3 separate regions of the Homo sapiens genome follow, and all the other regions are linked to region 1. The links come from fine-mapping of genetic effects on gene expression. A gene starts in region 1. Each other region holds a variant in brackets. All regions are shown on one strand. Distances are between the middles of the regions.

Region 1 (10,234 bases):
CCTGTAATCCCACCTACTCGGGAGGCCGAGGCAGGAGAATTGTTTGAACCTAGGAGGCAGAGGTTTCAGTGAGCCGAGGTCGCAGCATTACACTCCACCCTGGGCAACAAGAGCGAAACTCCATCTAATAAACAAACAAACAAAAAAAAGACAACAGGATTTTAGGCTTGGCTGACTACTGTCATAGCTGGATGTCCAATTTTTCTCTAATGCCACAGACTTTATATGCATTGTAGAAAGATCAGCCTAACCTCATACACTGGACATCAGAAGGACAAATAATAAATAAAGAAAAATCTTACAAGCCCCCGCTTTGGCCCATGCAAATTATTAGCTGCTGTTTTTCCTTTCTTTGTTTTTTGCGATTTTTTGTTCATGTAAGGCATGGCAGTTCCCTGGGTGTTCTAATTGAAAAACCTGGAGGACAATGTAGGGCTATTGGTTATTATAGTCAGCAATTAGACCATGTAGTACATGGGTGACCTCTTTGTCTGAGGGCCATTTTTGCCACTGCCATGCTCCTTACGATTACTCAGAAAATTGTAATGGAGGCTCCTCATTCTATAGAAGCTCTTTTGAATTCACATAATACACAGCAATTTTCCATTAATAGATTGGTTTCTTATGACAAACTTACACTGTCTGCTTCATATGCTGCCCTCTCTATCTGTAATACTCTTAATCCTGCAGTGCAACTTCCTGAAACAACAGATGAAATATTTCATCACTGTATTCTACTCACAGAATTGGTGTCCAGACAGGATTTATAGGACACATCATGTAAAAATGTTGATATTATCTGGTTCACAGATGGATCGGATCTAAAGGATACATTTTGAAAATACTGAGCAGGCTACAACCTTGTGTCTCTTGTGGACATCAGAAAGAGCAATCCCACCGGGTGCGGTGGCTCATGCCTGTAATCCCAGCACTTTGGGAGGCTGAGGCGGGCGGATCACAAGTTCAGGAGTTCAAGACCAGCCTGGCCAATATGGTGAAACCCCGTCTCTACTAAAAATACAAACATTAGCCGGGTGTGGTGGCAGGCGCCTGTAGTCCCAGTTACTTGGGAGGCTGAGGCAGGAGAATCGCTTGAACCTGGGAGGCAGAGGTTGCAGTGAGCCTAGACTGCGCCACTGCACTCCAGCCTGGGCAACAGAGGGAGACTCTGTCTCAAAAAAAAAAGCAAAAAAAAAAAAAAGCCATCACTTGCCTCAAGTAAAATCAGCACAGCTAGCTGAATTAACAGCACTCACCAGTTTGTCAACTGGCCAAAAATCAAATGGATAATATTTATACTTAAAGGTATTATGCTATTGGTGTAGCTCATGACCTTGGGATGTTATGGAATCAGGCTTTTTTTTTTTGATACAGAGGCTTGCTCTGTTGCCCAGGCTGGAGTGTAGTGGTGCAATCTTGGCTCACTGCAACCTCCTCCTCCCGGGTTCAAGCAATTCTCCTGCCTCAGCCTCCCGAGTAGCTGGGATTACAGGCGCTCGCCACCACCCCCGGCTAATTTATTTATTTATTTATTTTTTAGATGGAGTCTCGCTCTGGCTGGAGTGCAGTGGCGCAAACTCGGCTCACTGCAAGCTCCGCCTCCCGGGTTCACGCCATTCTCCTGCCTCAGCCTCCCGAGTAGCTGGGACTACAGGCACCCGCCACGGCGCCCAGCTAATTTTTTGTATTTTTAGTACAGACGGGGTTTCACCGTGGTCTCTATCTCCCGACCTCATGATCTGCCCACCTCGGCCTCCCAAAGTGCTGGGATTAAAGGCATGAGCCACCATGCCTGGCCAATTTTTGTATTTTTAGTAGAGACAGGTTTTCACCATGTTGGTCAGGCTGGTCTCGAACTCCTGACCTCATGATCCGCCCCCCCACCCCCCACCCCCCCACTGTCCCCCAAAGTGCTAGGATTACAGGCATGAGCCACTGTGCCTGGCCAGTGAGGTTACTTAACCTCCCCCAGATATCTAATTAAACATGGCTCTCAAGTTTCTGATCATTTAGAAGCCATCCGATTATCAAAAAAGAATGTTTTATTAACGTTCCTGAACATTCAAACTCACCTCTCCAAAGAGTAAAAAAAAATTATTTCGCAGATGCAGCAGCAAAAAGACTCTCTTGACACCAATATCACATGAAACTATAAAAGTCACTACATTCAAAATAAGTGCCATTGAACAGGAACTCCAAGGGATTCAAAAAGAGGCTTCAGATAAGAAAAAGTAGATATGGCTAACAAAGCGGTAATGCTTTTCCCCCATTTACAAATTTTGGTGTGGACCCAACAGGAGACCCATCTTGCCTTTGAGATTTCAATTTCTTATGGTACAACATGTTTATGAGCCAACTCACGGGAAATCTGAGAAAATGATTGTTTGGGGAAAGAAATACTACTGGAAACCCTCACCTCCATTACTGAATAAAGTTTACACTAAATATCCAATTTAATTTATACAAAGCATAATCCAAGAAAGCTTTTTTTTTTTTTTTTTTTTGAAACGGAGCCTCACTCTGTCCTCTGTCACCCCGGCTGGAGTGCAGTGGCGCGATCTTGGCTCACTGCAGCCTCCGCCTCCTGGGTTCAAGTGATTCTCCTGCCTCAGCCTCCTGAGTAGCTGGGATTACAGGCATGCGCCACCACACCCAGCTAATTTTTCTATTTTCAGTAGAGACGGGGTTTCACTATGTTGGTGAGGCTGGTCTCGAATTCCTGACCTCGTGATCCGCCCACCTCTGCCTCCCAAAGTCCTGGGATTACAGGCATGAGCCACCGCACCCGGCCAACTTTTTTGTTTGTTTGTTTGTTTGTTTGTTTGAGACGGAGTCTCGCTCTGTCCCCCAGCCTGGAGTGCAGTGGCGTGATCTCGGCTCACTGCAACCTCCGCCTCCCGGGTTCAAGCCATTCTCCTGCCTCAGGCTCCGGAGTAGCTGGGACTACAGGCGCCTGCCACCACGCCCAGCTAATTTTTTTGTATTTTTAGTAGAGACGGGGTTTCATCATATTAGCCAGGATGGTCTCGATCTCCTGACCTCGTGATCCGCCCGCCTCGGCCTCCCAAAGTGCTGGGATTACAGGTGTGAGCCACCGCGCCCAGCCAACTTTTTTTTTAAGTATAGAAAATTTTACAGGTTGGGCGCGGTGGCAGGCGCCTATAATCCCAGCTGCTCGGGGGGCTGAGACAGGAAAATCACTTGAACTTGGCCAAGAGGCGGAGGTTGCAGTGAGCCGAGATCGCAGCAATGCACTCCAGCCTGGGTGACAGAGCGAGACTCCATCTCAAAAAAAAAAAAAAAAAAAGAGGTGGAGATTTCCCAGAACTGAGGTTCCCTCCCCTTTTTAGACTATATAGGGTAACTTCCAAACATTGCCAGGGCATTGGTATACTGTCATGGCGCTGGCGGGAGTTAGTATGCTAATGCATTATAATTAGCGTATAATGAGCAGTGAGGATGACCACAGGTCACTTTCATCACCATCTTGGTTTTGGTGCGTTTTAGCCAGCTTCTTTACTGCATCCTGTTTTATCAGCAGGGTCTTTGTGACCTGCATCTTGTGCCAACCTCCTATCTCATCCTGTGACTAAGAATGCCTAACCTGGGAATGCAGCCGAGTATTTCTCAGCCTTACTTTATCCAGCCCATTTTCAAGATGGAGTCACTCTGATTCCAATGCCACTGACAATGATAAGCACTTGCCAGCAAAGAGGTGAACGCATGGATTTAAGGCACTTGAAATATCTCAGTGTAAAAGCACCCTGTGCATGTAGCAGGACGAGCCGCAGACAAAACCTCTCAGACACCGAGTTGCAGAAGGAAGGGCTTTATTCAGCTGGGAGCATTGGCCAGCTACTGTCTCAAAATCTGAGCTCCCGGAGTGCACAATTTCTGTCCCTTTTAAGGGCTCACAACACTAAAGATTTCACATGAAAGGGTCGTGATTGATTTGAGCAAGCAAGGGGTATGTGACAGGGGCTGCATGCACCGGTGGTCAGGGAGGAACAGAACAGGGCAGGGAGTTTCACAATGTTCTTCTATACAATCTAAGGAATCTATGAATAACATCGGCTTCTAAATCATAAGTTGATTTTTAACTACTGGGTTTAGGCCAGGCGGGCCTAGGCCTGGTTTCGGGCCTGGCGCGGGGTTGCCTGTCTTTGGTTTTACTTCCTTGTTGTTTTTACTGAATATAAAACAATGTGAGAGGGTCTCTCTCTTCTCTCATGCATACATACTCCATGTTTGAACACCGCAGCCATTGTCCTGTAACATAATAGCATTTGTCTCATTAGCTTTTTGATGTTGATATCAGATTTCTAGAGGAATCTGTAGGTTAAAGATATAAATAAAAGTGTTGCTAATGGGCTGAGAACGGTGGTTCACGCCTGTAATCCTAGCACTTCGGTAGACCATTGCAGGCAGATCACTTGAGGCCAGAAGTTCGAGACCAGCCTGGCCAAAATGAGGAAACCCCGTCTCTACTAAAAATACAAAAATTAGCAGGGTATGGTGGCACACGCCTGTAATCCCAGCTACTCGGATGGTTGAGGCACGAGAATCGCTTGAACCCGGGAGGCATAGGCTGCAGTGAGCCAAGATCACACCACTGCACCCCAGCCTGAGTGACAGAGAGAACTATGTCTTAAAAAAAAGACAAAAAAAAAAAAAAAAGGAAGAAGCCGAGCATCACAAATTCTGAAATAAGAAGTCTCCAAACACGCGGGCAATCAGTTGCACACAGTACCCCCAGAAATGTGCGTATGGCCTCTTCTAAGATGGGAGACCCTCCTCCGCATCTGGACCTGGAGTCGCCATTTCCTAGCGCCCCTCGCAGTGGAGCTTGCCCCTTTCTTCGGAAAGTCGGAAGAAAGCCACCTTAAGCGCTGCCCATGTCTGGGAACTACATTACCCAGAATCCGCCCTGCGAAATGGTAACGTGGCTGAGCCAATGAAGCTTCAGAGAAGCCGTGCCATTGCCGGGGCACGTAAAGTCAAGCCAGGACTTCCGGCGTCCTAGCCGTGGCAGCCATTTTGGCCTGTCAGGTCCATCCGGCGATGCTGGGTCTGGACGAGCTCGGGAGGAGTGGTTGTGGCCATTGCACACAGGCGGATCTGAGGTTCGGCGACGCCGCTGGTCGCGACCCGGGACAGGACAACGACAGGAACACCGCCGAGCCCGCGTTCCCCCCCCGCCCAGAGTCATGGCGGCAGCAGCCGCTCTGAGGGCGCCTGCTCAGGTGAGCGCTGCGACCTCCGGGCCTTACCCACCCTACCCACCCAGACCCTGAGGCCCCTGATCGTGAGGGCCGCCTCCTCGCGTCCCTGCAGCCCAGGCCTCTGTCAGGGACGGAGAGGCGCCGGCGGGTGGGATCCCTGTTTCCGACACCCAGTTGATGCGGTCGGCAGAGCGAGACTGGCGGAGGGCAAAGGCCTGCAGGCGCGACTGAGGCAGGAGGATGCGGAACACGGGGACATCGTGTGTCTACTGGGAAAGAAGTGTGATACGGAGTTATTTCTTTTTTTTTTTTTTTTTGAGACGGAGTCTCACTCTGTCGCCCAGGCTGGAGTGCAGTGGCGCGATCTCGGCTCACTGCAAGCTCCACCTCCCCGGTTCAAGCGATTCTCCTGCCTCAGCCTCCCGAGTAGCTGGGATTACAGGCATGCGCCACCACGGGGTTTCACCATGTTGGCTAGGCTGGCCTCGAACTCCTGACCTTAGGTGATCCGCCCACCTCGGCCTCCCAAAGTGCTGGGAATACAGGCGTGAGCCACCGCGCCTGGCCGAGGCGGAGTTGTTTCTTCAGTACCAGGCTGAGGGTTGAACTTTGACTGTGAGGACGCTAAAAGCCATGGACAGTTTTGAACAAAGGAGGAAATCTGTGTTAGAGTTGCGATTCCCAAAAGATGTTCGAAGGAAGAACAGAGTTGAAGGCAGTGATGAGGACATTGAGAGGTTGAATCATTGAGAGGTGACATTGAGCACTGGGCCACAAGATTAGAGACTCAGTCTGAAGTCATCTGGCTGCAGGGCCAAAAAAAGCTTACAGAGAAGCCTGAGTCTATCAAATCCGAGCACAGACACATTTGTGAAAGCCCTGCCTTTTGGCACACCTCATGGCTACAGAAGCACTTACAGAATCCACAGTAGGAAGTAGGGGATGCTCTAGTCCTTCACTGGTCCTCATCCTATCCCACATGTCTAGATCTTGGCATCTTTTTTTTTTTTCGGCGACGGGTTCTCACTCAACACCCAGGCTGGGTTGCGGTGACGCGATCACGGCGCAGCACGGCCTCGACCTCTCCGGGCTCAGGAGAGCCTCTCATCTCAGTCTCCCGAGTAACTGGCTTTTTGTATTTTTAGTAGAGGTGGGGTTTCACGGCCGGGCGCGGTGGCTCACGCCTGTAATCCTAGCACTTTGGGAGGCCGAGGCGGGCGGATCACGAGGTCAGGAGTTTGAGACCATCCTGGCTAACACGGTGAAATCCCCCCTCTACTAAAAATACAAAAAATTAGCCAGGCCTGGTGGCACACACCTGTAGTCCCAACTACTTGGGAGGCTGAGGCAGGAGAATCGCTTGAACCCGGGAGGCAGAGGTTGCAGTGAGCCGAGATCGCGCCACTGCACTCCAGCCTGGGCGACAGAGAAAGACTCCGTCTGAAAAAAAAAAAAAAAAGAGAGAGAGAGAGATGGGGTTTCGCCATGTTGCCCAGGCTAGTCTCGAACCCTTGGGCTCAAGCAGTCCTCTTGCTTCGGCTTCCCAAAGTGCTGGGATGCCAAGCAGGAACTACCGCACCTCCTAGGACACTTAAGTGCCATTTCTCCGGTCCTTCAATCTGGGGATCTTGGAAAAACCTCAAACCCCAAACCTACATCAGTGACATAGGTTATGGGGAGTTGTTGCTATGTCTGTCAACTAATGTAACACATGTGGAGGGTTCACCCAGGAACTGATACTGGGGTGTGCAAATACTTACTTAGAAGTGAAACTAGAGGGGTGAGGTGATGTTACCAATTTCTTAATAGGCGCTGTCTGGTTACTGAGTGGGCAACAGACTGTGGGGTTGAGGGAGGAGGAAGATCAAACTGGAAGCTACTGCCCTAGTCGAGGTGAGGATTAATGGACTAGAGTTGTGGCTTAGGCAATGTGGCTAGATCTGGATTTGTGTTTTTTAGAGGGGCAAGTCAATTTTTTTTTTCCCAAGATGGAGTCTGGACCTGTTGCCCAGGCTGGAGTGCAATAGTGGAATCTTGGCTCACTGCAACCTCCGCCTCCTGAGTTCAAGCGATTCTCCTGCCTCAGCCTCCGAAGTAGCTGGGATTACAGGCGCGCGCCTCCACACCCAGCTAATTTTTGTATTTTTAGTAGAGACTAGGTTTCGCCATATTATCCAGGCTGCCTCGAACTCCTGACCTCGTGATCCACCCGCCTTGGCCTCCCAAAGTGCTGGGATTACAGGCTTGAGCCACCGTGCCCAGCCTGGCAACTCAATTTTTAAATGTGAACAGTGAGAGCTTGAGAGGATTCAGGAAACACCCCTGGGTTTTTTATCTTAGCAGCTGTAGCAATGGGAGCTGCATCAACTGAGATGAGCAAGTTGATAGCAGGTGTAATATTCACTGAGGCTATCAGGAGGTTTGTTTTGGCCATTCTGCGTGGAAAAAAATACAAATTGCTTTTGCTCTGCTCTCCCCCACAACAATCAACACAGAGTACTTCTGTGACTAGATAATGTGTGGATGGTTTTCCTCATACACCAAGTAGTTCTGCAGTGGACATCAGATCCCACAGGGTGAAGTCTCAGTCCCACGGGACTGTCCGCCAACCCCTTTCGATGCCAATCACAAGCCCCAGGATGTTTTTTTTTTTTTACCTGTCCTTTGACTGACTTGATAAAAATCAGGTTCCCATGACCCCTTCCTCGGCTTCCATTAAATTGCTAGAGCCAGTCACAGAACCTCAGGAGATGCTTTAATTTGCCAGTTTATTTTAAAGAGTATTTATTACAAAGGTTACAGATGAAGAGATGCATAAGGGGAAGCGACCCAGAGCTTTTATGATCTTCAGGCACACCACCATCCAGGAACTTCCATGTGTTTGGCTATTTGGAAGCTCCCCAGACCCTGTCTTTATGGGGTTTTATGGAGGCTTTATTACATAGGCATGATTAATTAAATCATTGGTCAATGCTGATCAGCTTAACTTTTGGCCCCCTCTCCCCTTTCTGGAGATTGGGGTATGGGGCTGAAATTTCCAGACCTCGAATCCTGACATAGTCTCTTTTCCCTGACCGGTCTCCATTCTGAAGTTATCTAGGGGTTTCCAACCATCAGTCAACTCATTGCCATTCAAAGTCACTTATAAATTTGAGAATTTCATGAATTTTAGGAGTTGCATGCCAGAAAAGGAGATGACCAAATATATATTTCACAATATCACACCCATATTAAGATTCTGAAATGTATTAGATACTACTTAGTGGAGCTATTAAATGGGCAGCTGGACACATAGATGCAAATATCTGGGGAAGCGTTGATATTGGAGGTATCTAATATATGGTAACTACTGTGTGGACTGAAATGATTGAGTCATGGCTCACATTTGGAAGGCACAACCTTCAGATTATGTTGATGACACTGTTGGACAGGAAGTAGAGTTTGGGTTTCCTGCTTGTGTACCTGGTGATGGTATTGGATTTGAGAAACACAGGTAAGGGAGGTAAATGGCCATGAAGGGAGGATACATCTGTTTCTTCTTCTTCTTTTTTTTTTTTTTTTTTTGAGACAGAGTTTTGCTTTGTCGCCCAGACTAGAGTGCCGTGGTGCAATCTCGGCTCACTGCAACCTCCGCCTCCTGGGTTCAAGTGATTCTTCTGCCTCAGCCTCCCGAGTAGCTGGGATTATAGGTGCCTGCCACCATGCCTGGCTAATTTTTGTATTTTTAGTACAGACAGGGTTTCACCATCTTGGCTAGGCTGGAAAGGGAGGATACATCTGACAGACTAGTTTGGCAAGTGACATAATGCTTCCAAGAAATGAATAGACTTGAGATGCATGCTGACGCATAGGAGTAGCTGAGGGAAGATGACACTCAGGCTGGAGCTTGTGTTTATTGGCCACTTTGTGGCCTCACCAAGATTTTGAGATGACTTTAGTGTGGCCTGGGGTGTTTGATTCAGCCTGGTGGATGTGGAGGCAAATATGGTCACCTTGTGAGAGTCACTATGCATGAGATTGATGACCAGTGGTTCTGGGCTTTGAATGGGGTTAGGTGGACAGAAGAAAGTCATAGTTGCCGGGCATAGTGGCTCACACCTGTGATCCCAGCACTGTGGGAGGCCAAGGTGGGCAGATCACGTGAGGCCGGGGGTTCGAGATCAGCGTCGCCAACATGATGAAAGCCCATCTCTACTAAAAATACAAAAAAAGTAGCTGACGTGGTGGCAGGCACCTGTAATCCCAGATATTCGGGGGCTGAGACAGGAGAATCGCTTGAACCTGGGAGGCAGAGGTTGCAGTGAACCGAGATTGTGTCATTGCACTCTAGCCTGGGTGACAAGAGTGAAACTCCGTCTCAAAAAAAAAAAAAAAAAAAAAGTCAGCCGGGCGCGGTGGCTCACACCTGTAATCCCAGCACTTTCGGAGGCTGAGGTGGGCGGATCACTTGAGGTCGGGAGTTGGAGACCAGCCTGACCAACATGGAGAAACCCCGTCTCTACTAAAAAATATAAAATTAGCCAGGCGTGGTGGCTAATGCCTCTAATCCCAGCTACTCGGGAGGCTGAGGCAGGAGAATCACTTGAACCTGGGAGGTGGAGGTTGCGGTGAGCTGAGATCGCGCCATTGCACTCCAGCCTGGGCAACAAGAGTGAAACTCCATCTCAAAAATATAAATAAATAAATAAATAAATAAATAAATAAATAAATAAATAAAAAGTCATAGTTTCTGAGGATAGCAAATGCAGCACAGAAGTGGAATAGAACCATAAATATCTGAAAATGCTAGTGGTTCTTTTTGTCTGTGGATTTATGCATGGAGGGCGTCAGAATGATTTGGGGCTACCATTGCTATTGAGAAACATTGGAATTCTGTGGTAATTTTGGATTCCTTTTTAATTTACCAAGACTACTGTGGATGATGTCAGCCACATTATGGTGTAAGCCCTAAAGTTAAGGTCAGTATCATGTGCTACCTTCATGTCTGGTGATACCAGTACTACCTCACATGG
Region 2 (11,188 bases), 55 kb after region 1:
GCCAGGATGGTCTCGATCTCCTGACCTCGCGATCCGCCCGCCTCAGCCTCCAAAAGTGCTGGGATTACTGGCGTGAGCCACCGCGCCCGGCCTCAGGGCGCGCTTTTAAGGAGAGTTCCTGACATGACGGTGGGCTTTTCCTGCAGATGCACCTCTGGGTAGCGCCCTCTTTACAGCCTTGAAACCTGGTCAACTACATTACTCAGAAAGCTCTGCGTTGAATGAATGCCGTCAGAGCCAATGAGGGCTCGGAAAGAAGCATTTCCGTGTGTGCGCCTAATGTAGGGCCGAGACTTCCGGGGTCCTCTTGTAGCGGCCACGTTGATCTGCGATACGCGTGTTTGCCCAGTGAGTGGCCCCGGACTGCTACGTGGGACTGCGGTGAATGAACCCAGAAGGTGGAGAGGAACCGTTCTCGGTGCACAGAGGCGGCTCTGCAGCCCGGTGAGGGCGCCTGCTGCTCCCGGGCAGTGCTTTCCCCAAGTAGTCCGATGGCTGCGGCTGCGCCGAGGCGCCCTACTCAGGTAATTGTGGCGTTTTCTGTGCCCTCAGGTCACCTCATCGTCACCCAGGTCCTAAACCAGCGAGGGAGAGGCTCCTGCTCACGGGTCTGTAGCCGGTACCCGGCGTAGGGACACTGAGGCGCTGGCAGGAGGGGTCCCTGTGTAAACGTCCAGTGGATTCACCTTGCCAGCTGCCTAGAGAGAGCCGATTTGTGAAGACAGGGGAATTGTAAGGAGAAATAGTAATTCACGCAGAGCCGGCTGTTCGGGAGACAGGAGTTTTATTATTATTCAAATCAGTCTCCCCGAGCATTTCTGGATCAGAGTTTTCAAAGTTAATTTGGCGGGTAGGGGCTTGGGAAGTGGGGAGTGCTGAACGGTCAGGTTGGAGATGGATTTATAGAGGGTTGAAGTGAGTTTTTCATGCTGTTTTCTGTTGTGGGTGGGATGGCAGAACTGATTGACCCAGATTACCGGTCTGTGTGTTGTCAGCTGATCCATCCAGTGTAGGATCTCCAAAATACCTCAAGCACTGATCTTAGCTTTTACAATTGTTATGTTATCTTCAGGAGCAACTTGGCGAGGTTCAGACTCTTGGAGCCAGAAGCTACATGACCCCTAAACGGTAATTTCTAATCTTATAGCTAAACTGTTAGTCCTGCAAAGGCAGGCTGGTCCCCAGGCAAGAAGGGAGTCTTTTCAGGAAAGGGCTGTTATCAATTTTGTTTCAGAGTGAAACCATGAACTGAATTCCTTCCCTAAGTTAATTCAGCCTGTGCCCAGGAATGAACAAGGACAGCTTAAAGGTTAAAAGCAAGATGGAGTCGGTTAGGTCTGATTTCTTTCACTGTCATAATTTCCTCAGTTATAATTTTGCAAAGACGGTTTCACCTGTGTTTGACATCAGTGCGATGCGGTGGGGAGAGCAACAGGCACAGGGAGGGGCCTAGGCGATGGTCTGGAGATGGAGGCAGCTGGGAGGATGGAACCTGGGGTCCACAGGCACCTGTCGGGAACAAAGTTTGAGGCAGAGCTACTCCTGGAAGAGCACACAGGCTGAGGGCTGTGCATTCATCATGAGGACACTAGAAGCCATGGAGAGTTTTGAAGAAAGGAGGGACATGATCCAAATCCAGGCTTTTAAGATTTCCCAAAGGCCAATCAAAGGAAGAACATTGTAGAGAGAGAGGATGAGGACTTTGGGGCCTTGGGAGGTTGAATCCTTTTTGTAGCTCACATAGGTGGTAGAGATGACATTTTGCACTGAGACAAGCAGGTCAGACAACCAGCCTGAGTGCCACCTGGCTCCAGGGACAAGAAAGGGTTCAGGGAGGCCTGAGCTTATCAAATCCCGTGACATGTTTGTAATGTCTGCCTCTCCCCTCAGGCACTCCTGGCTGCAGAAGCACTTAGGGAACCCACACAGGAAAGTGGAGGGTGTTCAATCCCCTCATTGGTCCTGACGCCATCTACAGGTTCTCTAGCTTGTGGTGTCCTGGGACTCTTAAGTGCCATTTTTTTCAGTCCTTTGATCCGAGGACCCTGGAGAATCTCTGAAGCCAGGATACCAAGTCCATGACAGGTTATATGGAGGTATTCCCATTTCTGTCAACCAATGTAAACACCCTTGTAAGATTAACCCAGGATTTGCTACCAGGTTGTGAAATGCTTAGAGATAAAACGGATCAAAGTCAGGAGGTGATATTACCACAGTTCTACCTGGCTACAGGCTTCATCTGGTTGGACCTTGTTGCATAGACTGTGGGTTGAGGGAAGAGGAAGAAAGGTCAGAGATAAGGCTCCTGCCATAATCTAGGTGAGGCTTAATGGATCAGATATGTGGTAAATCACATGGGTCTGGATTCAGGATTCACTTTTTGTAAAAAGACAGCTAGGTTTTCTTTCTTTCTTTCTTTCTTTTTTTTTGAGACGCAGTTTCGGTCTTGTCACCCAGGCTGGAGTGCAATGGCATGATCTCTGCTCACTGGAACCTCCGCCTCCCGGGTTCAAGTGATTCTCTTGCCTCAGCCTTCCGAGCAGTTGGGATTCCAGGCATGAACCACCACACTTGGCTAATTTTTGTATTTTTAGTAGAGACGAGGTTTCACCATGTCGGCCAGGCTGGTCTCGAACTCCTGACCTCAGGTGATTCACCTGCCTCGGCCTCCCAAAGTGCTGGGATTACAGGCATGAGACACCGTACCTGGCAGACAGCTAGGTTTTCTCTCTCTCTCTTTTTTTTTTTTTTTTGAGACGGAGTTTGCTTTTGTTGCCCAGGCTGGAGTGCAATGGCGTGATCTCAGCTCACCGCAACTTCCGTCACCCAGGTTCAAGTGATTCTCCTGCCTCAGCCTCCCCAGTAGCTGGGATTACAGGCATGCACCACCACCCTGGCTAATTTTGTATTTTTAGTAGAGATGGGGTTTCTCCATGTTGGTTAGGCTGGTCTTGAACTCCCGACCTCAGGTGATCCGCACGCCTCAGCCTCCCAAAGTGCTGGGATTACAGGTGTGAGCCACCGTGCCCGGCCGACAGCTAGGTTTTCTAATGTGGGTGATAAGAGCATGAAAGAGGAATTGGGCATGAGCCCAAGGTTTTTGATCTTTGCAGCTGTAACCATGGACGCTGCATCTGCTGACATGAAGTTGGTATTGACAACAATATTCACTGTGGATAGCAAGAGGGTTGTTTTGGCCATATGAAGAATCAGAGACCAATAAGTGGTGGCATCAAATGGATAACTAGACATACAGGATGGGATATCTGGGAGGGTGTTGATAATGGAGACATCCAATATATGAAAGCTAATGAGCGAACTACAGTAAGTTAGTTATGGGTCCATTTAGGAGGACATGCTTCAGATTTTGGTGGTAAATCTTTTCAGGGGCCAGGAAGGTGTGACTACAGGCTGAGGAGTGGATCTCTTACTTACGTCCCTGAGTGATGTTATTGGGCTTCCTAAACACCTGAGAGGGTGTGAGTGACCATCATGGCAGGATGTATCAGACAGTAGAGTTTGGAAGGGGACATAGACATCCGAGGAGAGAATAGACGAGATAGATGCATGCAGAAGCATAGGAGTAATTCAGGGAAGATGACACTTAGGCCTGAGTTGGTGCCAAAGTTGTAACTATTTATCACTGTCTGGACTCACAAACGTTTTGAGATGACTTTGGGAGTGCCTGGGGAGTTTCATTCAGCCTGGTGCATATGGGCAGTGAAAAATATGCTCATCTGTGATAGTAGATGTGGTTTGGTTCACAAATCCAGGGGCTGGGCTTTAAACGGCATTAGGTGGACAGAGGAGGGTTGCTACAGCTGAGGTCTCAGCTGGTGCAGCACAGAAGTGGAATAGGGCCATGGATATCTAAAGCCATATGTGGTTCTGTGTGGCTATGGAGTCATTCCGGGAGACATTCACAGGATGATTTGGGATTACCACTGCTATTGTAAACCATGGAAATTCTGTGTTAATATTGGATGCTATTTGTATTTGTCAAGCATAGTCTGGATGTTTATCCACATTTTGGTATAAGGCCAGAATTGAAGGCCCAATATGATGTGTCACTTTGACATCTTGTGATAGTGGGACAACCTTAAAAGGTGTGAGCACAAATCTCATCTCATTCCCACTCTGCTCTCTTGAATAATGTATCCTAGCCTAACAACCCTTTTTATCAAGGCAATGAGGCAGGGTTCCTCTGGGGGAAAGAAAGAGAGATCAGACTGTTACTGTGTCTATGTAGAAAAAGGAAGACATAAGAAACTCCATTTTGACCTGTACTAAGAAAAATTATTCTGCCTTGAGATGCTGTTAATCTGTAACCCTAGCCCCAACCCTGTGCTCACAGAAATGTGCTGTATTGACTCAAGGTTTAATGGAGTTAGGGCTGTGCAGGATGTGCCTTTGTAAACATGTGTTTGCAGGCAGTATGCTTGGTAAAAGTCATCGCCATTCTCCAGTCTCGGGTACCCAGGGACACAATGCACTGCGGAAGGCCGCAGGGACCTCTGCCTGAGAAAGCCTGGGTATTGTCCAAGGTCTCCCCCAACTGAGACAGCCTGAGATGTGGCCTCATGGGAAAGGAAAGATCTTACTGTTCCCCCAGCCTGACACCTGTAAAGGGTCTGTGCTGAGGAGGATTAGTGAAAGAGGAAGGCCTCTTTGCAGTTGAGATAAGGGAAGGCACCTGTCTCCTGCTCATCCCTGGGCAACAGAATGTCTCAGTGTAAAACCCAATTGTATATTCCATCTACTGAGATAGGAGAAAACCGCCTTAGGGCTGGAGGTGAGACATGCTGGAGGCAATACTGCTCTTTAATGCATTGAGATGTTTATGTATCTGCACATCAAAAGCACAGCACTTTTTTCTTTACCTTGTTTATGATGCAGAGACATTTGTTCACAGGTTTTCCTGCTGACCCTCTTGCCTCTATTACCCTGTTGTCCTGCCACATCCCCCTCTCCGAGATGGTAGAGATAATGA[T/C]CAATAAATACCGAGGGAACTCAGAGACCAGTGCCATCAGGGTTCCTCCGTATACTGAGCCCCGGTCCCCTGGGCCCACTTTTCTTTCTCTATACTTTGTCTCTGTCTCTTATTTCTTTTCTCAGCCTCTCATCCCACCTGATGAGAAATGCCCACAGGTGTGGAGGGGCAGGCCACCCCTTCACTCTCTCAGTTATTTTTATTACACCAGTAATTTCCTCATTGTGTTGAATCTTACAGTGGCTTATAAATCGATATGTACCTAGAAATGTTTAGCCAGTTCATGTATATTTGATGTATCACATTTTTTCCTTTGAATCACATACTCTAAAAGAAGTAACTTCCTCTTACTAACCTCTGCTTTTCCTAAGTGATGAATTAATCCTCTTTAGATAATTACAATTCTCTTTTCAACACTTAGCAAGAACTAATCTATAAAGAAGCACTATAAATCTATAAAGAACTTTCCCACCCGGGCACAGTGGCTTTGGTTCAACGCTTCTCCACCTTTTGGCTAAGATCAAGTGTGAGATGGAGTTTCGCTCTCATTGCCCCATCTGGAGTGCAATGGTGAAGTCTCAGCTCACTGCAACCTCCGCCTCCCGGGTTCCAGTGATTATCCTGCCTCAGCCTCCGGAGTAGCTGGGATTACAGGTGCCTGCCACCACACCTGGCTACTTTTTAATATTTTTAGTAGAGACAGGGTTTCACCGTGTTGGTCAGGCTGGTCTTGAACTCCTGACCTCAGGTGATCCACCTGCCTAGGCCTCCCAAAGTGCTGGGATTACAGGCATGAGCCAGTGTGTCCGGCCCCCAGCATCATTTTCTTCAGAGAATATTCGAGGAATCTTTTTATGGCTTGGCTTCCTTTTTTTTTTTTTTTTTTTTTAATTTGAGATGGAGTTTCGCTCCTGTTGCCCAGGCTGGAGTGCAATCAATGGCACGATCTCGGCCCACCACAACCTCTGCCTCCCAGTTCAAGCAATTCTGCCTCAGCCTCCCGAGTAGCTGGGATTACAGGCATGCACAATCATGCCCGGCTAATTTTGTATTTTTAGTAGAGACCAGGTTTCTCCATGTTGATCAGGCTAGTCACGAACGCCCAACCTCAGGTGATCCACCCACCTTGGCTTCCCAAAGTGCTGAGATTACAGGCGTGAGCCACCGTGCCCGGCAATGGCTGGGCTTTCATTGGGTGTGAAGTCTACAAACAGCATCTTCAATTTAAACTGTCAGTTAAAGTTCTTAAGATTTAGGAAATGATGGAGCTTGGAAAGTTATGAGATTACAAAATTCCGGAAAGTCCATTAGAAAAACCACAGGATGGAAAAAAAAATAAGCCAGGCAACAAAGCTTCAGAGGTCCCTGCTGGCCCAGGGAGAGATACCTGCAGTGTCCAGCATCTCAGTGAACATGATCTACTTTCAAAGGCAGGGGCTTAAAGCGAGGGAAGGGGGGGAACTGGTGGAAGCAAAGGCTCTCCCCATCACCACCTTGGTTTTAGGTAGGGATTTTAATTTAACTGAAGGACATCTCTCAACTTGGACAATAATTAATCCCTCAACAGCACCTCATATCTGCTATGACTTTGCAGCGCAGCAGAAAGAATGTTTAGTATCTAATAGATAAAAATTTCATCGAAAAAATTAAAATATTCTTGCAACACCCCCCCAACACCAATTCCTATTCTAAAGTGAATCTATCACTTGTGCTGTTGATACTTGACCATGTACTTAATTGGAAACCTAGATGCAAAAGACTGAAACTGAATCTTCACCCCAAAATGAAAACAAAATAAAATGAGTAACTTGAGGTTTATGGCATATAGTTTAGGTAAACACACACACAAGGAGAAGGGGGAAGAGGAAATGGAAGGTGTCGGAAGCAAAGCTGAGTGACAGAACACATTCAGTCAGGGCAGATGTCTATACAGAGTGTAGTGGAACCTCAGGAAAAGCTTCATATGGATTCATGCGCACGCGTCTGGAGGCACCAGATCCCTCCATGGCAGATCCAAGAACAGGGAGCTGAGGGAGAAGGCCATTCCCTTCATTCCAGTTTTAGGAGCTCCACATCGAAGACGAGAGTGGCGTGTGGTGGGATGATGCCTGGGTGCCCAGTGGCACCGTAGGCAGAATCTGGAGATATAGTCAGTTGGGCTGTCTGACCCACACTCATCTAAGCAACCCTTTCTTCCCAGCCTCGGATCACCTCCTGCTAAAAATTAAGGGGCTTGTTTCTGTCCCGGGAGGAATCAAATTTCTTTCCATCTTCAAGCATCCCGGTGTAGTGCACCACGCAGGTCTGGCCGTGCCTCGGGAAGGTGCACTCCTCTCCTGGGGAGATGGTTTCCACCTGCACTCCCATGGCGGCGGCCGATGCTGGGTGGGCGGGTAGCGCGACGGGCGGTGTGGACCAACAGCGACCTGGCGGCGGTTCCACAGCTCTGGCTAGACCCTTGGCTTTTATTTATTTATTTATTTATTTATTTTTTGATACAGAGCCTCTCTTTGTCACCCAGGCTGGAGTGCAGTGGCACGATCTTGGCTCACAGCAACCTCTGCCTCCCGGATTCAAGCGATTCTCCTGCCTCAGCCTCCCCAGTAGCTGGGATTCATGCCCAGCTAATTTTTGTATTTTTAGTAGAGACGGGGTTTCACCATGTTGGCCAGGATAGTCTGTAGCTCTTAACCTCGTGATCCCCTCACCTCTGCCCAGAGTGCTGGGGTTACAGGCGTGAGCCACTGGGCCCGGACTTTTTTTTTTTTTTTGGCCAGGCGCGGTGGCTCACACCTGTAATCCCAGCACTTTGGGAGGGCGAGGCGGGCGGATCACGAGGTCAGGAGATCGAGACCATCCTGACTAACATGGTGAAACCCTGTCTCTACTAAAAATACAAAAAATTAGCCGGGCGTGGTGGCGGGCACCTGTAGTCCCAGCTACTCGGGAGGGTGAGGCAGGAGAATGGCGTGAACCCAGGAGGTGGAGCTTGCAGTGAGCCGAGATCATGCCACTGCACTCCAGCCTGGGCGACAGAGCAAGACTCAAATCAAAAAAAAGAAAAATCGACCCCTGACCTAATCAGTAATGTTATACAGATTACAAACATTATATAGAAAAGCATTGTGAAAATCCCTGTCCTGTTCTGTTCCGTTCTAATTACCAGTGCATGCAGCCCCCAGTCATGTACCCCCTGCTTGCTCAATCGATCACGACCCTCTCACACAGACCCCCTTAGAGTTGTGAGCCCGTAAAAGGTACGAGAATTGCTCACCTGGGGAGCTCAGTTGTTGGAGATGTGAGTCTTGCCGAAGCTCCCAGCTGAATAAAGCCCTTCCTTCTTTAACTCGGTGTCTGAGGGGTTTAGTCTGCAGCTTGTCCTGCTATACCTACGATTTCATCTCCAACCCAACCAATCAGGACTGCCCACTTCATGGCCCCCTATCTACCAAATTATCCTTAAAAAACCCCAGTCTCATGAGGTGGAGGTTGCAGTGAACCGAGATCATGACCTTGCACTCCAGCCTGGGCAACAGGAGCAAAACTCCATCTCAAAAAAACAAACAAACAAATAAACAACAACAAAAAAACCCAGTCTCCAAGTTTTCAGGAAGACTGATTTGAGTAATATTAATAAGACTCCAGTCTGCTGTTCATCCAACTCTGTGTGAATCAAACTCTTTCTTTTACAATTCTCCTGTCCTGATAAATTGGCTCTATCTGGGCAGTGGGCAAAATGAACCCGCTGGGTGTTTACACATTCATTTTAACAATACAATAATGGTTATTAACCTTTGCATTAATCTCTGCTTCCAGTGGAAGAATTTTGCATCAAAGGACCACTTGAAATGATAGGTGAATTTAGATCTATAGCCTTTGGGAGCACCTACACTAACTCTGAAATAATATTTTTCCATACACTAGGGTAATCAGCTACAGCTAATAATTGCAAGAAATCTCAATAGGAGTTTTAAGGAAAGGCAGGATGATCCTCTGCCCAGTAGAAAGATCTGCAATCTTTTATTTATTTATTTATTTAATTTTATTTTTTTCCAATACAGAGTCTTGCTCTGTCGCCCAGGCTAGAGTGCAGTGGCACAATCTCAGCTCACCGCAACCTCTGACTCCTGGGTTCAGGAGATTCTCCTGCCTCAGCCTCCTGAGTAGCTGGGATTATATGCATATGCCATCATGCCAAGCTAATTTTTGTATTTTTAGTAGAGGCGGGGTTTCACCATGTTGGCCAGACTGGACTTGAACTCCTGACCTCAGGTGATCCACCCGCCTCAGCCTCCCAAAGTGCTGGGATTACAGGCGTGAGCCACCCACACCCAGCCCTTATTTTTATTTTTTAGAGAAGAGGTCTTGCTCTGTTGCCCAGGCTGGAGTGCAGTGGCACGATCTCGGCTTACCGCAGCTTCAAACTCCTGAGCTCAAGCGATTCTCCCTCCTTCAGGCTCCCTAACCCTAACCCCAACCTTGGGGCAGCTGGGACCACTGGCCTGCCTGACCTCACCCCACTAATATTTTTTATTTTTTGCAGAGACAGGATATGGGGAAAAGAAATCAGATTGTTACTGTGTCTATGTAGAAAAGGAAGCCATAAGAAACTCCATTTTGATCTGTATTAAGAAAAATTGTTCTGCTTTGAGATGCTGTTAATCTGTAACTTTAGCCCCAACCCTGTGCTCACAGAAACGTACTGTATTGAATCAAGGTTTAATGGATTTAGGGCTGTGCAGCATGTGCCTTGTTAACAATATGTTTGCAGGCAGTATGCTTGGTAAAAGTCATCGCCATTCTCCATTCTCTATTAACCAGGGACACAATGCACTGCGGAAAGCTGCAGGGACCTCTGCCTGAGAAAGCCTGGGTATTGTCCAAGGTTTCCCCCACTGAGACAGCCTGAGATATGGCCTCATGGGAAAGGAAAGACCTTACATCCCCCAGCCGGACACCCTTAAAGGGTCTGTGCTGAGGAGGAGGAGTGAAAGAGGGAGGCCTCTTTGCAGTTGAGATAAGAGTAAGGCTTCTGTCTCCTGCTCATTCCTGGGAATGGAATGTCATGGTGTAAAGCCAACCATTCCCATTCGTTGTATTCTGAAATAGGAGAAAACTACCCTGTGGCTAGAAGCGAGATATGCTGGCAGCAATACTGCTCTGTTGCTCTTTGCTACACTGAGATGTTTGTTTAAAGTGAAACATAAATCTGGCCTATGTGCACATCCACGCACAGTACCTTTCATTGAACTTATTCATGATACAGATTCCTTTGCTCACGTGTTTCCCTGCTGACCTTCTCCCCACCATCACCCTGTTGCCCTGCCACACTCCCCTCACCAAGAGAGTAAAAATAATGATCAATAAATACTGAGGGAACTCAGAGACCGGCGCCGGTGAAGGTCCTCACATGCTGAATGTGCCAGTCCCCTGGGCCCACTATTCTTTCTCTATACTTTTTCTCTGTGTCTAATTTCTTTTCTCAGTCTCTCGTCTCCACCTGATGAGAGATACCCATAGGTATGGAGGGGCAGGCCCCCTTCAAACAGGATTTTGCTTTGTTGCTCAGGCTAATCTCTAACTCTTGGCCTCAAATGATCCTTCTGACTTGGCCTCCCAAACTGGTGGAATTACAGGAGCTAGCCACCATACCAGTCAGGGCGCATATCTTAAGGATACTCCTGAGGTGGAGCTGGGCTTTTCCTGCAGAACCGCCTCTGGGAATTGTGCCCTTTACCCTCCTTGTTACCTAGGGAACTACATTACCCAGAAAACTCCGCATGGAATGACAGAGTGGAAGAGCCATGGGGGCTCAGAATAAAGGCATTTCCTGTGTGCACGTGACAATGGGTCCGGACTTCCGGCGCCCTCTGGTGGCGGCCATTTTGATTGGTGTTGGGTTTATTTGTCGGAGAGGCTCCTGAGCGCTAGGTCGGCACTGCGGTGACTGAACCCAGAAGGCGGAGAACAGTTGTCCTCTGCTGCACAGAGGCGACTCTGGAGCTCTGTGACGGCGCCAAGCGTGACCCACCCCTGGGCCAGGATAGGGACCGTCATGCCCATATCTCCTGGCTGGTCACCCTCTCCTCCCAACCCTGCTTTAAACCACGTGGTTCGATGGCGGTGGTGGCCACGCTGAGGCTCTCTGCTCAGGTAATTGTGGTGCCTTCCATGCCCTCAGGTCACCTCATCATCACC
Region 3 (9,591 bases), 23 kb after region 1:
CCGGTGGGAAACACATGTGGTGGATTAACCCAGGAATGATACTGGGATGTGGAAATGGCTTAGAAGTGAAACTGGAGAGGCCGGGCGTGGTGGCTCTCGCCTGTAATCCCAGCACTTTGGGAGGTCAAGGCGGGTGGATCGCTTGAGGTCAGGAGATCTAGACCAGTCTGGCCAACATGGTAAAACCCAGTCTCTACTAAAAATACAAAAATCAGCTGGGCATGGTGGCGGGTGCCTGGAATCTCAGCTACTCGCAGGCTGAGGTGTAAGACTCCCTTGAACCTGGGAGATGGAGGCTGCAATGAGCCAAGATTGTGCCAATCTGCACTCGAGCCTGAGCAACAAAGTGAGAATCCATCGCGAAAAAAAAAAGAAAGTGAAACTGGAGGGGGTTAAATGATGTTACCAGTGTTTTAACAGGTTCTGTCTGGTTACAGAGTGGACAACAGACTGTGGGGTTGAGGGAGGAGGAAGATCAAACTGGAAGCTACTGCCCTAGTCCAGATGCTCAAATCCTGACAGTCTTTTCCCTGACCAGTCTCCATCCTGAAGTTATCTAGGGGTTACCAACCATCATTCAACTCATTACCATTCAAAGTCACTTATAAATTTGAGAGTTTCATGAATTTTAGGAGTTCCATGCCAGGAAAGGAGATGACCAAATATATATTTCACAATACCACAGCCATGTTAAGATTCTGAAATGTAATAGATAATACTTAGTGGAGCTATCAAATGGGCACCTAAACCCATGGATGCAAATATCTGGGGAAGGGTTAATATTGGAGCTATCCAATATATGGTAGCCACTGTGTGGAGCAAGATGAGTGAGTCATGGATCACATTTGGAAGGGGCAACCTTCAGATTATGGTGGTGACACTACTAGGAAGACAGGAAGTGGAGGTTGGGTTGCCTGCTTGTGTACCTGGTGATGGTATTGTACTTCAGAAAACAGGTGAGGGAGGTAAATGGCCATGAAGGGAGAATATATCTGGTAGCCTAGTTTGGCAGGTGACATAGGCTTCCAAGGAATGAATAGACATGAGATGCAAGCAGAAGCATAGGAGTAGCTGAGGGAAGATGACACTCAGCCTGGACCTTGTGCTAATTCGCCACTCTGTGGCCACACCACGATATTGAGATGACTTTTGTGGGGCCTGGGGTGTTTCATTCAGCCTGGTGGATATGGAGGCAAATAAGGTCACCTTGTGAGAGTCACTAGGCCCGAGATTGACGGCCAATGGGTCTAGGCTTTGAATGGAGTTAGGTGGACAGAAGAAAGTCATAATTTCTGAAGATAACAAATGCAGCACAGAAGTGGAATAGGGCCATGAATACCTGAAAACACTAACGTTCTTTTTTCCTGTGGATTTATGCATGGAGGGCTTCGTATAATGACTTGGTACTACCACTGCTATTAGGAACCATTGGAATTCTGTGATAATTTTGGATTGCTTTTTAATTCACCAAGACTACTGTGGATGATGTCAGCCACATTATGGTGTGAGCCCTAAATTTAAGGTCAATATCATGTGCTACCTTCATATCTGGTGATACTAGTATTACCTCAAATGGTCTGAGTACAAATCCCCCTTCCCACTCTGCTCTTTTGTATAATGTGTCCTAGCCTAACTACCCTTTTAATCAAGAGGACTAAGCAGAGTTCCTGTTTATTATTTATTTGTAGCAAGTTTGAATTTCATTTCTACACACAGAGTTAATTCAAACAAGCCAGTTACAGCTGGGTGTGGTGTCGCACACCTATGGTCCCAGCCACTCGGGAGGCTGAGGTAGGAGGATCCCTGAAACCTGGAAAGTTCAGGCTGCAGTGAGCTGTAATTGCACCACTACGCTCCAGCAGGAGTGACAGAGCGAGACCCTGTCTCAAAAATTAAAAACAAGCCAGTTGCATCCTTTCAAGGGAATCAGGGGCTATCACACCTTCTTGATTCAGAAAAGCTTACATACCACAGTCCCTGGTTGCTCTCTCTTATGCATAGTGCAACCCCCATGTGGCTATCTGTGGTGAGTGGTGTCCTCTTCTCTCAAGTTGTGAGCATATTTGATTAATTAACTTTCTTGATGACTTATGTTCAGCATCAGGTGTTGTGTGTTTGGCCATCACTATAACCCTAGGGTAAGACTCCTACCCTTATCAGTAGAAGAAAGGGGGAATAAAATACTTTAACTTCTGGCAAGGCCAGAGAGAGGTCTATGGTGTGGGGGAGTTAGGTGTTGGTGGCAATTGACATGTGTCTTTGGTGTCCAAAGATGGGAAGGATGTATAGGTACACAGGGATTATGTTTGAAGGTTCTTAGGCACTGCATTGGGATTCATGTGACCTTTGCTATACCAGGGGAATTGCTAGAAAGGAGGGGATGGAACCCCTTATTTCAGGATCACAGCATAGATATCTATTTGTTTATCTGCCTCTTGTTGCTGATGGCTATGTGTCATGATCAGTGGTCCCATGAGGACACAGTGGCACTAGTGGGCAAAGTTTCTCCTCTGAGTTGGGGATCCTGGGAGAAGGAGGATGGGCAAGGGTAGATATGTTGGGGAAGTGGATTGTGGGTCTTCAGCACAGGGGCCATTTATGGTTTCATCTATCCCCATCATAACAGAGCAGTGTGACCTTTGAAGACGTGGCTGTAAACTTTTCCCTGGAGGAATGGAGTCTTCTTAATGAGGCTCAGGGATGCCTGTACCATGATGTGATGCTGGAGACCTTGACACTTATATCCTCCCTGGGTAAGGTACTCATACTTAACTGTGACCTGAGTTAGTCTCTGCCCCTCCCCTTTATTCCTCTTGGTAATAACGTCTTTCTCACATCAGGACTGTGGCACAGCTTCATTCTCCAATTCTCTGGATCAGTTCTGTGGTTGGTAGTACTGAGATACATGTACTGCCCTCTCCTTTCCTTGA[G/A]CAGCCCCAGTCTGCTTTGTTGCAGGCTCCCAGGGAAAGAGTTAGGGTCAGGAGTCTTAAAGTCACCCTAATGCATCCCACCTTGGTTGTCTTCTGCCTTTCTGGGTGACTGTGCAGATCTAAGACTTCTTTTTTTGAGACGGAGTCTCGCTCTGTCGCCCAGGCTGGAGTGCAGTGGCGCAGTCTCGGCTCACTGCAAGCTCTGCCTCCCGGGTTCATGCCATTCTCCTGCCTCAGCCTCCCGAGTAGCTGGGACTACAGGCGCCCGCCACCACGCCCGGCTAATTTTTTGTATTTTTAGTAGAGACGGGATTTCACCGTGTTCACCAGGATGGTCTCGATCTCCTGACCTCGTGATCCGCCCGCCTCGGCCTCCCAAAGTGCTGGGATTACAGGCATGAGCCGCCGCGCCCCGCCCCCATTGCATTTTTCAGCCTGCCTGTGTCCCTTGCCAGACTTATGTGACTGCCAGTTATCTTGCAAAAAGCATTTCACCTTTACCACTTGGCAGGTACTCACAGTTTCATCACTCCCCTACCTCATTATGATCCAGACGTAACTTTTTCTTTCATTCACCAGGGGGATTTTTTAGTATCCTCAGTACTCATTCCATTCTCAATTCTTTGTGTCTGATGAGGTAGGCCAAGGACCTGACTAATTTTTGGTGCAGAGAACTCTTCTGGTGATTTGAAAAGATGGACTACCTTTTTCAGGGATCTCTTGGATCTCACAGGATTCTTTTTTTTTTTTTTTAAGATGGAGTCCCGCTCTGTCACCCATACTGGAGTGCAGTGGCGCAATCTCGGCTCACTGCAAGCTCCACCTCCCGGGTTCACACCATTCTCCTGCCTCAGCCTCCCAAGTAGCTGGGACTACAGGTGCCCGCCACCACGCCCGGCTAATTTTTTTTTTTTTTTTTTTTTTGTATTTTCAGTAGAGATGGGGTTTCACTGTGTTAGCCAGGATGGTCTCGATCTCCTGACCTCGTGATCCACCTGCCTCAGCCTCCCAAAATGCTGGGATTATAGGCGTGAGCCACCGTGCCCGGCCCTCACAGCATTCTTAAGATAGAATTTTCCAGCCTGCCAGTCACAAATCAGACAGCCTGCCTGCCGCCTATTTCCCTTGTTTGTATTATAATAAAGACTCTGCTGCTTAAGACACCTTCAATCTTGAGAGCTGTATTTACAGTGTGGAATTGTTTGAACACTGGATTTGCAGATGGGCATGGTGGCTCATGCCTGTGATACCAGCACTTTGGGAGGCCGAGGCAGAAGGGTCAGTTGAGGTCAGGAGTTCCAGACCAGCCTGGCCAACATGCTGAAACCCCATCTCTACTAAAAATACAAAATTAGCCAGGCATCGTGGCATTCGCCTATAATCCCAGCTACTTGGGAGGCTGAGGCACAAGAATCACTTTAACCTGGGAGGTGGAGGCTGCAGTGAGCTCAGGTAATGCCACCCCATACCAGGATGAGCAACAAGAGCGAAACTATCTCAAAAATACCATAATTTTGGGGTTCATAGGTCAACCTGAAAGGGTGGCAGTTTTCATCACAATCTCTGGTGCTTCTGAGAGCAACATGAAATTGTTCTCTACTTCACAAGGGATGGTGCATTATGTTTCAGTGCTGTTGAGGGTACCTTCACAGGTTGTGAGGTTATAGTGGAAATGATAAGTTTTTCGGAATTACTGCATTTTAAAAGGGCTTCTACTATGATCCAGACATGGCTGTGAAGGATGAATACAAACAGAAATTCTCAGGACCTTCTTAATTGAATCTTATGTGGCTAAGGTCACTGCTGGAGAGAATAACCTAAAGATTTTGTTATTTGTGGTAGTCCTTCTAGTCTAATTGACCTAAAGGTCATTCCTGCATAGGCAGGAGGAAGAAGAAAGGGAGCAGGGATGTCCATTAGACCACTACGTGGCCCATCATGTGACCAGCCGTCATTCTTTCTGAATCATCTGGAAATGGTCTTTATTGTTCGTCATGTTTTTGTTACCATGAAGGCTAGTTGCCTCACTCAGGTTGAGGAGATGATACAGCAATAGTTAATAAACCTCTTGGAAAAATCAAGTCCAGATTTTTAAAATTACATTTTTAAAGCTGTAATAAGAAATAAATCACTTTTTTTTTTCTTTGAGATGGAGTCTCGCTCTTGTTGCCCAGGCTGGAATTCAGTGGCACGATCTTGGGTCACTGCAACCTCTGCCTCCCAGGTTCAAGCGATTCCCCTGCCTTAGCCTCCCGAGTAGCTGGGATTACAGGCACCTGCCACCATGCCCAGCTATTTTTTGTATTTTTAGTAGAGGTGAGGTTTCACCATGTTGGCCAGGCTGTTCTCAAACTCCTGGCCTCAGGTGATCCGCCCACCTCGGCCTCCCAAAGTCCTGGGATTACAGGCATTAGCCACCATGCCTGGCCAAAATAAATGACTTTCAAAAAAACTGCACATATTTATTTTTATTTATATTTATTTATTTATTTGAGACAGAGTCTGGCTCTGTCGCCCAGGCTGGAGTGCAGTAGCACAATCTCAGCTCACTGCAAGCTCCGCCTCCTGGGTTCATGCCATTCTCCTGCCTCAGCCTCCTGAGTAGCTGGGACTATAGGCGCCCACAGCCACGCCCGGCTAATTTTTCTATTTTTAGTAGAGACAGGGTTTCACCGTGTTAGCCAGGATGGTCTCGATCTCCTGGCCATGTGATCCGCCTGCCTCGGCCTCCCAAAGTGCTGGGATTACAGGCATGAGCCCCCGTGCCTGGCCAAAACTGCACATATTTAAACTGTAAAGTGTGATAAGTTTTGACATTAATAAGCCTGTAATATGATCCATCACCTTCATATTTACCTGGAGTCTGGTAACGTCTTTACCTCTGCCTTCCAGATGACCATTGATAACTTTGCTTTATAATAGATTATTTTACATTTTCTACATTTTTATACGTGATTTGATGTCGTGAAGTGTTTAATCTTTATCCCTGGATGGTATCGTGCGGTATATTTATTTTGAGATTTGTCAGTGATGATACTTGAGTAGTTCACTCCTTTTTATATTGCTGAGATGACATGCTATGAAATATCACTGTATATTCATTCATCTGTTTATACATCATTAATCTATTTCTCATTTTTGGCTTCCATAAATAAAACTACAGACACTTTAGTACAGTTCTTTATGTAAATATGTTTCTTTTTTATGTGTTACTATCTGGGGGTTCAATAACTGAATCAGAATAGGTAAATCTATAGCTTTTTGTTTGTTTGTCTGTTTTGAGATGGAGTCTCGCTCTGTCACTCAGGCTGGAGTGCAGTGATGCAATCTCGGCTCACTGCAACCTCTGCCTCGTGGGTTCAAGCAATTTTCCTGGCTCACCCTCCGAAGTAGCTGGGACTACAGGCACATGCCACCATGCCCAGCTAATTTTTTTGTATTTTTAGTAGAGGTGAGGTTTCACCATCTTGGCCACGCTGGTCTTGAACTCCTGACCTCGTGATCTACCTACCTCAGCCTCCCAAAGTGCTGGGATTATAGGCATGAGCCACTGCATCCAGCAAATGTATAGCTTTTTAGGCAACACCAAAGTGTACTGTAAAATTAATATGGTTGTTCCCTTTAGTGTTACTGTCACCAGTGTCCATGAATTCCACTTTCATGTTTTTATCGATACAGAATATGGATAGTCTTTTTTTTTTTTTGAGACAAAGCCTCTCTCTGTCGCCCAGGATAGAGTGCAGTGGCGTGATCTCGGCTCACTGCAACCTCCGCCTCCTGAGTTTGAGCAATTCTTCTGTCTCAGCCTCCCTAGTAGCTGGGACTACAGATGCATGCCACCACGCCCGGCTAATTTTTTTGTATTTTTATTAGAGACAGGGTTTCACCATGTTAGCCAGGAGGATCTTGATCTCGTGATCCACCTACCTCAGCCTCCCAAAGTGCTAGGATTACAGGCGTGGGCCACCACACCCGGCCAATTTTTTGTATTTTTAATAGAAATGGGGTTTCACCCTGTTAGCTAGGATGGTCTCAATCTCTTGACATTGTGATCTGCCCGCCTCAACCTCCCAATGTTCTGGGATTACAGGTGTGAGCCACCGTGCCCAGCAGAGAATATGGATAGTCTTTTAAATTTTTACCCTTTTTTATAAGTGGATGTTCCTTCTTTAGTAAAATGTCTATTTATATATTTTGCTTGCTTTTTAAATTCTTATTTATTTTTAGAGAAAAGATCTTGCTCTGTCACCCAGCCAAGAGGGCAGTAGTTTGATCATAGCTCACTGCAACCTCAACCTCCTGGGCTCAAGCGTCCTCCCACCCCAGCCTCCTGAGTAACTGGGACTACAGGCACATGCCAGCACACCCACCGAATTTTTAAATTTTTTTGTAGAGACAGGATCTCATTATGTTGCTCAGGCTGGCCTTAAACTCCTAGGCTCAAGCAATCCTCTCACCTCACCCTCTCAAAGCACTATGTCTGGCAACTCATTTTCTTCTTCTCAAATGTATTTTGCCTATTTCCGTTTTCATTAAGAAATAAAATATGGTTGGGCCAGTGGCTCACGCCTATAATCCTAGCACTTTGGGAGGTCGAGGTGGGTAGATCACCTGAGATCAGGAGTTCAAGACCAGCCTGACCAACATGGTGAAACCCCATCTCTACTAAAAATACAAAAATTAGCCAGGCATGGTGGCGGGCTAATCCCAGCTACTCGGGAGGCTGAGGCAGGAGAATCACCTGAACCTGGGAGACAGAATTTGCAGTGAGCTGAGATGGCACAACTGTACTCCAGCCTCAGCAACAAGAGCAAAACTCCGTCTCAAAAAAAAAAAACAAAAAAAAACCAGGGGTCACATCATTGACCCTTCTCTCTCTCTCCCTCACCTACAACATGCAAAGATCTACTTGTTCCTTTATTAAAAATATAGGTAGAATGTCTCCTTTTCTCCCATCTGCACGGCATTCACCTGGTCCATCAACTCATCTGAATTATGCTGGTAAACTTCCCTCCGTGCTAACTGCCTCCTCATTAATCCAGGAGTCTGTTCTCCTCCAGTGTGCAACCAGATAGATCCTATGAACATCTGGATTAGACCACCTCTTTCCCCATCCAAGCATCCCAGCATCTCCAAAACAGATGCCCAGCTTTTCAGGCAACCACATTACAGGCCTGAATCTTGACCCGGCTTCTTGTTCCTATGAGAAAGAATAGATGCCTGTCGTACATAGGTCCCAGCTCAGTCACACCTCAAAGCATTTGCACAAAATGGTATGAATTCCTAAAATAGCTTTCTACACCTGTTTCCATTGGTTGCCAGAAATAAGAACACTTCTATTAATCCTTGGCTGGTACTCAGGACTCTGAGCTTGGTGTATCCACAGGTTCTCCACGCCAAGAACTGGGAAAACATCAAGTGAACACTCAAGACACCATAATCTCAGACACCACACAGGTAGTGTCAGGTTCAGGGAGAGACTGGGACACTTTCTCTTTCCCTGTGTTGGCACCATAAGCATTTTCAGTGTTCAGAACCCATGAAAATAAGGCAACTGTGACCAGCTCCAGCTGATCAAACCTCCATTGATCCCTACACAACCGTAAAGCCAGGGGCCCTGGGGCTAACTAATTAACTGATTTCAATCCTCAGTGCTCCTTCTTACCACCTATGGCCTAGAAAGAAGACTCCACTTCTCAGTGCCTCATTGTCCTCATCATCCTTATTCCAGTCTGTTCTCTGAGAGGCTTTTGTAAACTTTTAAAGTTCTACCAAGGACATGACCCTCTTCTGTTCACAAATCTCCATACATCCCAGGACACTCAGATTGAAGGCACAACCCCTAAGACAACCAATACAGGTGTGACTCTGGCTCATCTTCAGTTTTTACTAGGGCCTTTTTTTTTTTTTGAGAGACGGGGTCTCACTATGTTGCCCAAGCCTGTCTTAAACTTCTGGACTTATGTGATCATGACACAACATGGTTACCAGGTTCTGAAATGTTCATGGCTCAGATGCACCTCCAAGCCTTTGCACCTATTGGTTCCTCTACCTGTATTACTCTACCTGGGGTGAAGCCTGTAATACACAGCATTTACCTGAGCTAGGTCCCTCAGTGTGGCTGCTGCCATCAACTGTGGGTGGAGTAGGCATCACCCCAGCCAGTGCCTATGAGCCTCAGACCTGCCACTTGGGAGCAGAGATGACTACTCCTCTTGTGCCTTCTCAGTCCCAACCCAGTACTCCCTGGCCTGACAAGCATGCCCAGAAATCCCTCATCCTGGGCCTTGCAACTAGCACCTTCTGGGTAAAGTACTTCTCAGAGCTCTCAGCCAACAATGGTGGTATCCTCCAAGAGCAAACCGAATGCAGACCATGTTACACTCTGAGGGCTGCTGGAAAGCCCTGCTCACACCTCAAGGGAGGAAGACTATTGATTCTTTGTAAAAGCGTCAAATAGGTATCACATAAGACTCTAGGAAGCTCATCCTGCACCCAGAGAATAAAAAAACTATTTGAGATGCTCCCAAACTTTACTTATCTAAGTGGCCATATCATTGGCATCATTCAGACTTACAATGTGTGCACTCAGAGCTGAGAACATTAAGTATTGATTGCTCTTTAAATTCATGTTACCCAAATTATTACAGTCAGTTTTGTG

The links.
Region 2: its variant is fine-mapped to the expression of ZNF586 in whole blood (TOPMed, PIP above 0.99).
Region 3: its variant is fine-mapped to the expression of ZNF586 in whole blood (INTERVAL, PIP above 0.99).

Annotation. Positions count from the first base shown.
Region 1 is chr19:57,764,636-57,774,869 of GRCh38, forward strand. It overlaps ZNF586 (zinc finger protein 586), which reads left to right and starts at 5,041. Exons shown (of 3, transcript NM_017652.4): 1 at 5,041-5,243. The coding sequence starts at 5,208. RefSeq lists enhancers at 4,765-5,304, 5,026-5,275.
Region 2 is chr19:57,819,422-57,830,609 of GRCh38, forward strand. It overlaps ZNF587B (zinc finger protein 587B), which reads left to right and starts at 10,878. Exons shown (of 3, transcript NM_001376223.1): 1 at 10,878-11,143. The coding sequence starts at 11,108. It also overlaps the pseudogene FKBP1AP1. RefSeq lists enhancers at 259-488, 2,744-3,244. The variant T/C (reference allele first, on the strand shown) is at 4,991.
Region 3 is chr19:57,787,648-57,797,238 of GRCh38, forward strand. No RefSeq gene overlaps it. Among named protein-coding and RNA genes, the nearest start is that of ZNF552, 22 kb to the right of the region's middle. RefSeq lists a silencer at 1,749-1,895. The variant G/A (reference allele first, on the strand shown) is at 2,931.